Regions from separate parts of the Homo sapiens genome. Here region 2 is linked to region 1. The links come from fine-mapping of genetic effects on gene expression. A gene starts in region 1. The other region holds a variant in brackets. All regions are shown on one strand. Distances are between the middles of the regions. Region 1 holds the start of ZFR2 (zinc finger RNA binding protein 2). Region 2 overlaps ZFR2 (zinc finger RNA binding protein 2).

Region 1 (5,479 bases):
CGGCTTTTCTAAGAGATACTCATGCAGCCCAGCCTCTGGGCCCCCCAGCTTCCGGGCCGGCCAGCCTGTGGAGGTTGGTCAGGTGGTCACCCATCTTCTTCTTCTTTTTTTTTTGGAGAGCCTCACTCTATTCCCCAGGCTGGAGTGCAGTAGCGTGATCTCGGCTCACTGCATCCCCTGCCTCTTGGGTTCAAGCGATTCTCATGCCTCAGCCTCTTGAGTAGCTCACCACGCCCGGCTAATTTTTGTATTTTTAGAAGAACTGGAGTTTCGCCATGTTGGCCAGGCTGGTCTCAAACTCCTGACCTCAGGTGATCTGCCTGCCTCGGTCTCCCAAAGTGCAGGGATTACAGGTGTGAGCCACCGCGTGCAGCCCACTTCCTCATCTCGGAAGTGACTCTCCAGGAAGTCACAGAGATGGGGGTCTGTAGGGGCGGAACCCAGTGCATGAAGATCCAAAAGACTCTGGTTGAGATTTTTCCCCGGGGCCATGGCGGCTTCCATGGCTTCCAGGGTTTTACCCCACTCATCTTGACCTGGCTTCAGGATGTCCTGGAAGACAGCAGGGCCACCACGCTGGTTTTGCATCTTCAGGAGACGCTCAACACCCTTGCGCTTCTCCTTGGCCAATTCATGGAAGAAGTAAGCCCCGCATTCCGGAGCCACATCTTGGTGATCGAAATAGAAGCGCAGACGATGGCTCACGCCTGTAATCCCAGCACTTTGGGAGGCCGAGGCAGGCGGATCATGAGGTCGGGAGATCGAGACCATCCTGGCTAACACGGTGAAACCCCGTCTCTACTAAAAATACAAAAAAATTAGCCAGGCGTGGTGGTGGGCGCCTGTAGTCCCAGCTACTCGGGAGGCTGAGGCGGGAGAATGGCGTGAACCTAGGAGGCGGAGCTTGCAGTGAGCAGAGATCGCACCACTGCACTCCAGCCTGGGCGACAGAGCCAGACTCCGTCTCAAAAAAAAAACAAGCAAAAAAAAAAAAAAAAAAACCCGCAGAGGGAGGAGGTGTAGGAGGCCCGCAGGTGCAAACTGACCAGGCGGTTGACGGCTGCCTCCACCGCGGTGGAATAATTCTGACGAATCTGGGAGCTCATGGTTGGTCGGCAAGAAGGAGCTAACCAAAAAAACGGCGTTGGTTGGTCCGAGAAGCAGGAGATGGCTGAGCCGATGCTCCTGGAGGTTGCAAGAAGAGAGGAAATCAGCGGGTGGTCGGAGGCTGGAAGTGAGTTCCCGGATCTGTTCCATCCAAACACTGTGGAAGCAAGAGACGGATCCGCGGGACCGCCAAACACGCTGCTGCTTGTCAGGTTTCAATACTGTCAAGTGACTCTCCCTCCCCCTCCTTCCAGGCTGCAGTCTTGGGAAGGAAGTCACTATGCACAACCCACACTCAAGAGGTGTAGAGTTACTCTCTATCTCCTTAAGCGCAGTGTAGCTACACAAATTAGGAATTCTTCTGCATAAGAGATTTGTCTGTTTGCCTCCATTTATTTGTTTATTCATTCAATTCTTTCTCTCTCTCTCTCTCTCTCTCTTCTTTCCTTCCCTTCCCTCCCTCCCTGCTCCTCTCCCTCTCCTCTTTTATTATTTATTTATTTATTTTTTTATTTTTTATTTTTTTATTTTTTTGAGACGGTGTATTGCTCTGTTGCCCAGGCTGGAGTACAGTGGTGTGATCTCGGCTCGCTGCATCCTCCACCTCCTGGGTTAGGTAATTCTCCTGCCTCAGCCTCCCGAGTAGCTGGGATTACAGGTGTGCCCCACCACGCCTGGCTAATTTTTTTTTTTGTATTTTTAGTAGAGACAGGGTTTTGCCATGTTGGCTAGGCTGCTCTTGAACTCCTGACCTTGGGTGAGCTGCCCACCTCGCCTTCCCAAAGTGCTGGGATTACAGGCGTGAGCCACCACGCCCAGCCCTTTCTTTCTTTTCTCTTTTTTGAGACAGGGTCTCACTCTGGAGTGCAGTGGTACAGTCACAGATCACTGCAGCCTTGACAGCCCAGGCTCAAGTGATCCTCCCACCTTAGCCTCCTGAGTAGCTGGGACCACAGGCATGTACCACCATGACCAGCTAATTAAAAAAAAATTGTAGAAACAGGGTCTTGCTATGTTGCCCAGGCTAGTCTCAAAGTCCTAGGGCTCAAGATCCTCCTGCCTCCGCCTCTCAAAATGTTGGGATTACAGACGTGAGCCACTGTGCCCGGCCTATCATTTATTTATATCACGTTGTGAACACAGGAGGCAGAGACCATGGGGGCCTTCTGAAGAGTCATTCTGAGGCTAGATGCAGTGGCTCACGTCTGTAATCCCAGCACTTTTGGAGGCCAAGGCAAGATTATTTGAGGCCAGGAGTTCAACATCAGCCTGGGCAACATAGCAAGACACTGTCTCTACAAAAAATTTAAAAATTAGCTGGCTGTGGTGGTGGTGGGGCTTGAGCAGAGACCTCCACATCTGAGTGGTTAAAGAGAAGGTGGGGCTCGGAGACAGAGGTAGGGCTTGTGCAGAGACCATATCTGAGCAGGTAAAGGGAAGGCGGGGCTCCGAGAAAGAGGCGGGGCTTGTGGCATGGGTGGGGCTTGAGCAGAGACCTCCACACCTGAATGGTTAAAGGGAAGGTACGGTTCCAAAAAAAGGCGGGGCTTGTGGCATGGGTGGGGGTTGAGCAGAGATCACATCTGAGTGGGTAAAGGGAAGGCAGGGCTCTGAGTAAGAGGCGGGGCTTGTAGCATGGGCGGGACTTGATCAGATACCACCACATCTGAGTGGTTAAAGGGAATGTGGGGCTCCGAGAAAGAGGCAGGGCTTCTAGCATGGGCGGGGCTTGAGCAGAGACCTCCACATTTGAGTGGTTAAGAGGAGGGCGGGGCTCTGCGTAGGAGGCGGGGCCTCGGGGCAGGTGTGGTCGCGGGGCGGTGTCTCCCTAGCCTAAGAGAAGGAAGCGAGAAGGTGAGGGCTTCGCGCAGGGGGCGGAGCTTGGGGCGCGTGGCCAGGCGCGAGCGGCACGCGGCTCGGGGGCGGGGCGGGTGACGTCGCGGGTCCGCCAGGCTCGGGGAAGACGCCAAGATGGCGACGAGTCAGTATTTCGACTTCGCGCAGGGCGGCGGCCCGCAGTACAGGTAACTGCCCCGCCGCGCCAGCCCCCGCCAGTCCCGGCCCCTGCAGCCTGGCCGGGACCCCGCCTACCCCTTCTCCCGCCGCGTGCGCCCGGCCCGGCCCCAGTCCCAGCCCCAACCTGGAACCCCGGCCTGAGGGAAGCCGCGGCGCCGGGAGAAGCAGGCGGGGCGGCCTCAGGTTAGGCACCGGGCGGGATGCGGGCTCCGGGGCTCCGGCTGAGACGTCTCTGCAGCCAACGGTGTCTGTCGGCGGGAGCGGGAGGGGGCTCCTGAAGTGGGAGGGGGCCTGGGTTTGGGCCTGGGCCTGTGCGGGGTCGGGGGGGTCAGCCCCTGATGGGGGCGCCACGAGGAGGGCAGCGAGAGGGGACAGACCCGGGCGGGGGGTGGGTGGTCTGACCGAGGAGGGGAGGGGACGGAACTGACCCAATGCAGGGAGGAGACCTGGGAGGTGCCTGGCCGGGGAGTGGGTGGGGATGGGCAGAGGGGAGCTGACCCCTGATTGCTGGTAGGGGAAGAGAAGACACAGACCTAGGAGGGTGTCTGGCTGGGCAGGAGGAGGGGAAGGGCAGAGGGGCATTGACCCCCGATTGCGGGGGGAGGAGAAGACACAGACCTGGGAGGGTGCCTGGCCGGGCAGGGGGATGGACAGAGGGTAGCTGACCCCCGATTACTTGTAGGGGAGGAGAAAACAGAGATCAGCGAGGGTTCCTGGCTGGGCAGGAGGAAGCCACAGTCGAGGGGTGAGGAATTGGCCCCTGATGGGGGTAAGAGAGAAGACAGAAACCTGGGAGGGTGTCTGGCTGGACAGGGGGAGAGCTAGAGCGGAGCTGACCCCGATTGCTGGTAGGGGGAGAGAATTCAGACCTGGGAGGGTGTCTGGCTGGGCAGGAGGAGGGGAAGGGCAGAGGGGCGTTAATCCCCGATTGCTGGAGGAGGAGAAGGCAGAGACCTGGGAAGTTTCCCGACTGGGCAGGGGGCAGCAACATTCGAGTGTGGAGGGCACTGACCCCTGATGGTGGGGGTAGGAGAGAAGGCAGAGACCTGGGAGGGTACCTAGCAGGCAGGGGCAGAGACCTGGGGTGGGGTGTGGAGTAGGGGTGGGAACCTGACCCCTGATGTGGGGTGGAGGAGAGAAGACAGAGACCTGGGAGGTTACCCCAGGGAGGGGCGGAAACCGAGGTTGGTGGGGAACTGAGGCCTGACTGGGGAAGGGGGACAGAGACTTGGCGGGAAGCCAGTATTATGTGGGAGGAGGTCCTGAGGTCAAATAAGAGGGTGGGCACCTGGGTTTCCAGGGAACTGGGACCCTGCTGGGACAGTGAGGAGGGAGAAAGGGCCCTGAGTGTTGTGATATTTAAGATCCTTTTCTAGGTCTTAAATATGTGGTCGTTTGGGAGGGGAGGGAGAGAAAGGATCCTGGAGGAGAGATGGCAGGGGATGGGGACACACTGGGAACTGGCCAGGGGCAGAAGGGCTCAGAGGGTAGGGACACACACGGGGTAAGTTTGTGCCCCAAGTGTACAAACACACACTCTACACTGTTCTCCCAGGCCTGCTCCTCGGAGCATCTCTGCTATCTTCAGCCCGTCCATCTGCCCCCAAGACTGGAGTCCCAGTCCGGGAGCCAGGGCTGGCATCTCTGAGGGGACCAGATTCCCCCCCCAACAGTTGATCATTTCCGCGTGTCACCCTTGTGTTAGTTTCCAGCTGGTAGCTTGCTATAACCTTGTTTCTCACAGTCCCTGCTGAGCCCCCACAGATACAAACCACCCCTTGGGCACCTCATAGAGGGGCCTCTGCTGAGCTCAGGGGGGTCTTTGCCCCCCGCGGTGTTCCTACTGCATTTCAGCACATGGAAGAGAGATCCAGGCTGGTGTTTCAGCTTCCCGCGGTGGAGCGGCAGTGCCGACCCTTCCACCAGTGCTGTGATATTGCTGTGCCCTTTCTAATGGAATCACAAAGAGAAACCACCCAGGGCTTGGAAACCAGGGCTGTGGGAATGAGGAGTGCATCTGTTTCCTGCACTCGGAGTGGTTTCTCTGGTGGAGTATTTGACTAGTAATGGATTTCCTATTAGGGAAAGAATCTATGACCTGCTGATTTCCCAGAATGGAGCATTTAATTTTTATTTGATCTTTTCTTTTGCTTCCTTCATCCTCAGTGGTGTTTTGATTGCCAGGGCTCAGTTAAAGCGGCTGGACTTGGCTAGCGATCCAGGCTAGTACAAACTTCTGGACACACTCCACCCCTCTGCCTGCTAGCTCTTCCTTCTTTTCTCTTTCTCTTCTTTCTTTCTCCATTGTATTCTTCCATCAGACGTGGAAAATCACTTGAATATTATGCTTGCTATT
Region 2 (5,000 bases), 47 kb after region 1:
GCTCACTGCAACCTCTGCCTCCTGGGTTCAAGCGATTCTCCTGCCTCAGCCTCCTGAGTAGCTGGGACTATAGGCATGCACCACCACGCCCGGCTAATTTTTGTATTTTTCGTAGAGACAGGGTTTCACCATGTTGGCCAGGCTGGTCTCGAACTCCTGACCTCAAGTGATCCACCAGCCTCGGCATTCCAAAGTGCTGGGATCACAGGCGTAAGCCACTGCGCCCGGCCTCTTCTGGTAGAATCTGGCCTGGTGCCGGGTGCTGGGGTTCTCTGGAAGCCCTCACCCTGCACCTACAGGGTTCCCTGGGCTGCCACCTCCACTGTGCTCCCCTGCATGCCCTGGTGCTCACGGTGAACAAATTGGGCTCAGAATCAGAGTTATATGGGTACCAGGAAATGAAGGTGGAATCCTCACACCCCTCTGCCTGTGACCCTACCTTCCCTGCGTGCAAAGCCCCAGCTGTCAGAGCTGACCCGCGTTAACTAGGATTACATGCCAGGCGTCTGCTCACTGCTTTGTGTGCATTGCTTCGCTTTACCTCCACGACAACTCTTTTTTCGTGGTTTGTTTTGTTTTGTTTTTGAGACAGAGTCTCACTGTGTCACCCGGGCTGGAGTGCAGAGGTGCAATCATAGCTCACTGCAGCCTCCACCTCCTGGGCTCAAGCGATCCTCCCAGCTCAGCCTCCTGAGTAACTGGGACTACAGGTGTGCACCACCACATCCCACTACTTTTTGTATTTTTTTTTGTAGAGGTGGGGTTCTGCTATGTTGCTGGGGCTGGTCGGAAACTCCTAGGCTTAAGCGATCCTCCCAACTCGGCCTCCCGCAGCACTGGGTTTACAGGCATGAGCCACTGTGCCCAGCCCACAACTCATTTGAGTCAATGTTGTCACCAGTCCCAATGTGTAGATGGAAAAGCCGTAAACGGTGGAGGTGGAATTGGAACCCGGGTCTGTCTAAGAGTCTCTGCCCTGGACCACCGTGCTGTGCGTGGGCAGGGGTCGAGGGAGCCACATTCTATTTTTAGCCTCAGCAGCGTTGATTCTTGAATAGCAACATGATTTTGAAGATCAAACCATCAAGTCATTCTTATAACAAAGATATTTGTCTCCCCCCGAGGCTCCATCATTTCGCCTAACGGGGGTAGGTTAAGTGCGAGCCTTGGTCCGCCTGATACTTCATGGTCTATTAACTGTGGATTTTGTGCTGTCGGTGGGTTCCTCAAGCGAGGGCCTAAAACCAGGGCTTCTCCCCGGATGGATTGAAATTGGCCTCGGTTTCTTGGCTGGGTCACACGCAGGCATGAAAGGGAGAGCGAGGTTGCTGTCCGGGGCCATTCCCCCTGACATCACAGGAGGGAGGGGGATGGCACAGCCTGCAGTCTGGGTGGCTCTCCACCCCATGCCGCCTGGCGGGTCTGCAGCTGCAGTGCTTTCTCCTGGAACAGGGTATAAGTGACATGGTTTTTCCCCTCAGGGCCTCCTGAGCCACAGGCAGCAGGCTGCAGACCCCAGTGGGGGAAACCAGCCCAACCTAAATTAGAGGGTCCCGGAGCACCTACCCAAGGAGGCTCAAAGGAAGCTCCCGCGGGCTGCTCTGATGCGCAGCCGGTGGGCCCGGAATATGTGGAGGAGGTAAGTCGAGGCTGTCAAGTCCTGGTGCCCCGGTCAGGGAAGGACCTTCCCATGGATCAGGCTTCGAGACCTCACCCGGCTTCTCCCAGCGAGATTTACAGACCCATCCCCGTTCCTGAGCTGCACAGGCCAGACCTCCATGGACCAAAACCCCGTGCAGACCCGCTTGACACTTTGGGTGCCGGATTTTGGTATCAGCAGGAAATGAATATGGCCCCGTGAGGGCCAGAGACAGGCCGAGGCATTCCCAACAGGGGACCCTGCGGAGCCGTCTGTCTGGAAGGTGGAAGGGATCTGGGCAGTAGAAAGCTCCCCGGGAGGTTGGAAGCCCTTCTGTCTAGCCCCTTTCCTGGGCCTGCGGGACCCTGGGACCTGCCAAGGTCAGGCTGGTGAGCAGTGGAGCCGAGCTCCTGGGCCAGGTCTGCCAGCTCCCAGGCCAGCGGCAGTTCAGACCCCGGTTGGCCTTGTGCGTGCCAAAGAGGCAGGGCTGGGTTTCCTCTGCCTTGCCTGTAGGCCTGGGATTCTTTTAAGAGAAAGGGTCTTGCTGTGTCACCGAGGCTGGAGCACAGTGGTGCCATCATGGCTCACTGCAACCTCAAACTTCTGGGCTCAATCAATCCTCCCACCTCAGTCTCCTGAGTAGCTGGGACTACAGGCATGAGCCACCACTCCCAGCTAATTTTTGTATTTTTTATTTTTTTTGTAGAGATGGGGGTCTCGCTATGTTGACCAGGCTGGTCTTGAACTCTTGGGCTCAAGCAATCCTCCAGCCTCCCATGGTGGCGTGTGCCTGTGGTCCCAGCTACTCGGGAGGCTGAGGTGGGAGGATCGCTTGAGCCCAGGAGTTTGAGGCTGCAGTGAGCCAAGACCGAGCCACTGTACTCCACTCCAGCTTGGGTGACACAGCAAGACGCTGTCTCTAAAAAGACATACATAAATAAAATGAGCAGCAAGGAGGAAGGCTCCGCCGCGACCTGGCAGCGGTAGCATCTCACATCCCACCCCGCCTCGTGCCTGGTGCGCGTGCGGCTGTTCTGTGTCTCAGGTGTTCAGCGACGAAGGGCGAGTGCTTCGCTTCCACTGCAAGCTGTGCGAGTGCAGTTTCAACGACCTTAACGCGAAGGACCTGCACGTGAGGGGGCGGCGGCACCGGCTGCAGTACCGGGTGCGTCCAGCAGGGGGAGCTCCGACACCCGTCCGGGCTGTGCTAGGGCCCGGCGGGCGCTGGGAGGCCT[G/C]TGGTCGGGCCTCTTCCGCGCGTGTGATCCGACGAACTTAAGAGGGAGGGGTGATTTTCTGGGTTTTCAACGTCTTGGTCCTCGTCTCAAAAGTGTATCTTCGGCCGGGCGCGGTGTCTCACGTCTATCATCCCAGCACTTTGGGAGGCCAAGTTGGGTGGATCATTTGAGGTCAGGAGTTCGAGACCAGCCTGGCCAACATAGTGAAATCTTTACTAAAAATACAAAAATTAGCCAGGTGTGGTGGTGCGCACCTGTAATCCCAGCTACTCGGGAGGCTGAGGCAGGAGAATCGCTTGAACCCGGGAGGCGGAGGTTGCAGTGAGCCGAGGTCACACCATTGCACTCCAGCCTGGGAGACAAGAGCAAGACTCTGTCTCGAAAAAAAAAAAAAAAAAAAAAAAAAGGCTTTGGGAGATTTTTCAGCCCAACAGTTCTAGTCTCTGGGCCTCTCCCTGCACCCCAAGATCCTCCTGGCATCCCTGTCTAAAGCAAGGTCCCTACTCTCAGAGCCTTGCCTGTCCTTTCCAGAAGAAAGTGAACCCGGACCTTCCCATTGCCACGGAGCCCAGCAGCCGGGCTCGGAAGGTCCTGGAGGAGCGCATGAGGAAGCAGCGGCACCTGGCGGAGGAGCGGCTGGAGCAGCTGCGGCGCTGGCACGCGGAGAGGAGGTGCCCGGCTGCGGGTCTTGGCAAGGGGGCCTGGTGAGGGAGGGCAGGTCCAGCGTGGAACCTAGACGCCCACTGCTGCAGATTACGGAGCTCCTCCGTGTGAGCTCTCGAGCAGTGGGGGGAGACGGGTGCCCGGGCAGTGGGCACGTCCTGGTGTGGGAGCGTGAGAGGGTTCCAGAGCAGACGGGCAAGGGCACAGTGGCGTGCGGACCTGACACGTGGGCTCCAGGGCCTCCGTAGACGCAGGGACACTGCCGGCCAACTCGCTGGACCACACGGCTGCAGAGGTGCCTTGTGACCTGTGTCCCCCGACCCCCGGTGTCCCTGTGTCCCCGACCTCTAGTGTCCCTGTGTCCCCCGACCTCTAGTGTCCCTGTGTCCACCGACCTCTAGTGTCCCTGTGTCCCCCGACCCCCGGTGTCCCTGTGTCCCCCGACCTCTAGTGTCCCTGTGTCCCCCGACCTCTAGTGTCCCTGTGTCCCCCGACCCCCGGTGTCCCTGTGTCCCCCGACCTCTAGTGTGCCATGTGACCCCTGACCCCTGGAGTCCCCCTGACCCCTGGTGTCCCTCTGTCCCCTGGTGTTCCTGTGTCTCCTGACCCCTGATGACCCTGTGTCCCCTTACCCTTGGTATCCCCTGAGTCCCCTTGACCCCTGGAGTCTCCTGTGTCCCCCTGATCCCCTAGCGTCCCCTCATTCCCAGTGTCCCCTGTGTCCATCCTAGAGCATTTTCTGATGTAACATCTGACTCTGGTGTGTCCAGCAGCAGCAGGTCTGCATTGGGAAGGGAACCAGGACCTCCTGAAGGCCATGGCTGCCCGGGCTGGGCCTCATTTGCCTAAGGGGTGTCTTTGGCTGCCCCCCACACCAGCCTTCCCAGCCTCAGTCTTCTGTGCATACAGCAGGCACCCATGCAGTGCAGTGGAGCCCCAGCAAGAGCTTTGGCCCTTCCTTCCTTGCTGGGAGCATAAGGCCCCAGTGTTTCTGACTTGCCCCCAGCTTAGGGCCACTGCTGGCCTGACCATGCTCTGTCACGTCTCGGTCCTGCAGGCGGCTGGAGGAGGAGCCACCCCAGGACGTGCCGCCCCACGCGCCGCCCGACTGGGCCCAGCCTCTGCTCATGGGCAGGCCGGAGTCACCCGCCAGCGCCCCACTCCAGGTAGGTACAGTTTCCTCTGTGTGCAAACGCGGGCGACCTCACACTCCCCGGAGCAGCGGACACCTCCTCGGGAGGACCCGGCCTCCCCCCAACTCCCACATAGTACTCAGGGGATGGGGCTCCATGGCCCAGGCCTCCTCACTCCACAGATGGGAGCCCCAGCACCCCAGCCCCTGCCACTGGCCACAGAGATCCCTTCTGCTTCCTGGAGCCCCGGGTGGTCGCCTCCCTTGGGGAGCCTCATGCCTCTGTGGCTACTACTGTCTCTTCTCAGAAGCACCTGTCCCCGCAGCCCGA

What was found. PIP is the estimated chance that this variant, and not a neighbour inherited with it, causes the effect.
Region 2: its variant is fine-mapped to the expression of ZFR2 in whole blood (TOPMed, PIP above 0.99). The same link has a PIP of 0.9 or more in blood mononuclear cells.

What each region holds. Positions count from the first base shown.
Region 1 is chr19:3,866,617-3,872,095 of GRCh38, reverse strand. ZFR2 (zinc finger RNA binding protein 2) reads left to right here and starts at 3,058. Exons shown (of 19, transcript NM_015174.2): 1 at 3,058-3,131. The coding sequence starts at 3,079. It also overlaps the pseudogene FTLP5. RefSeq lists an enhancer at 472-971.
Region 2 is chr19:3,819,885-3,824,884 of GRCh38, reverse strand. ZFR2 (zinc finger RNA binding protein 2) reads left to right here. Exons shown (of 19, transcript NM_015174.2): 8 at 1,482-1,639; 9 at 2,685-2,804; 10 at 3,406-3,545; 11 at 4,595-4,703. Among named protein-coding and RNA genes, the nearest start is that of MATK, 36 kb to the right of the region's middle. RefSeq lists an enhancer at 2,926-3,085. The variant G/C (reference allele first, on the strand shown) is at 2,875.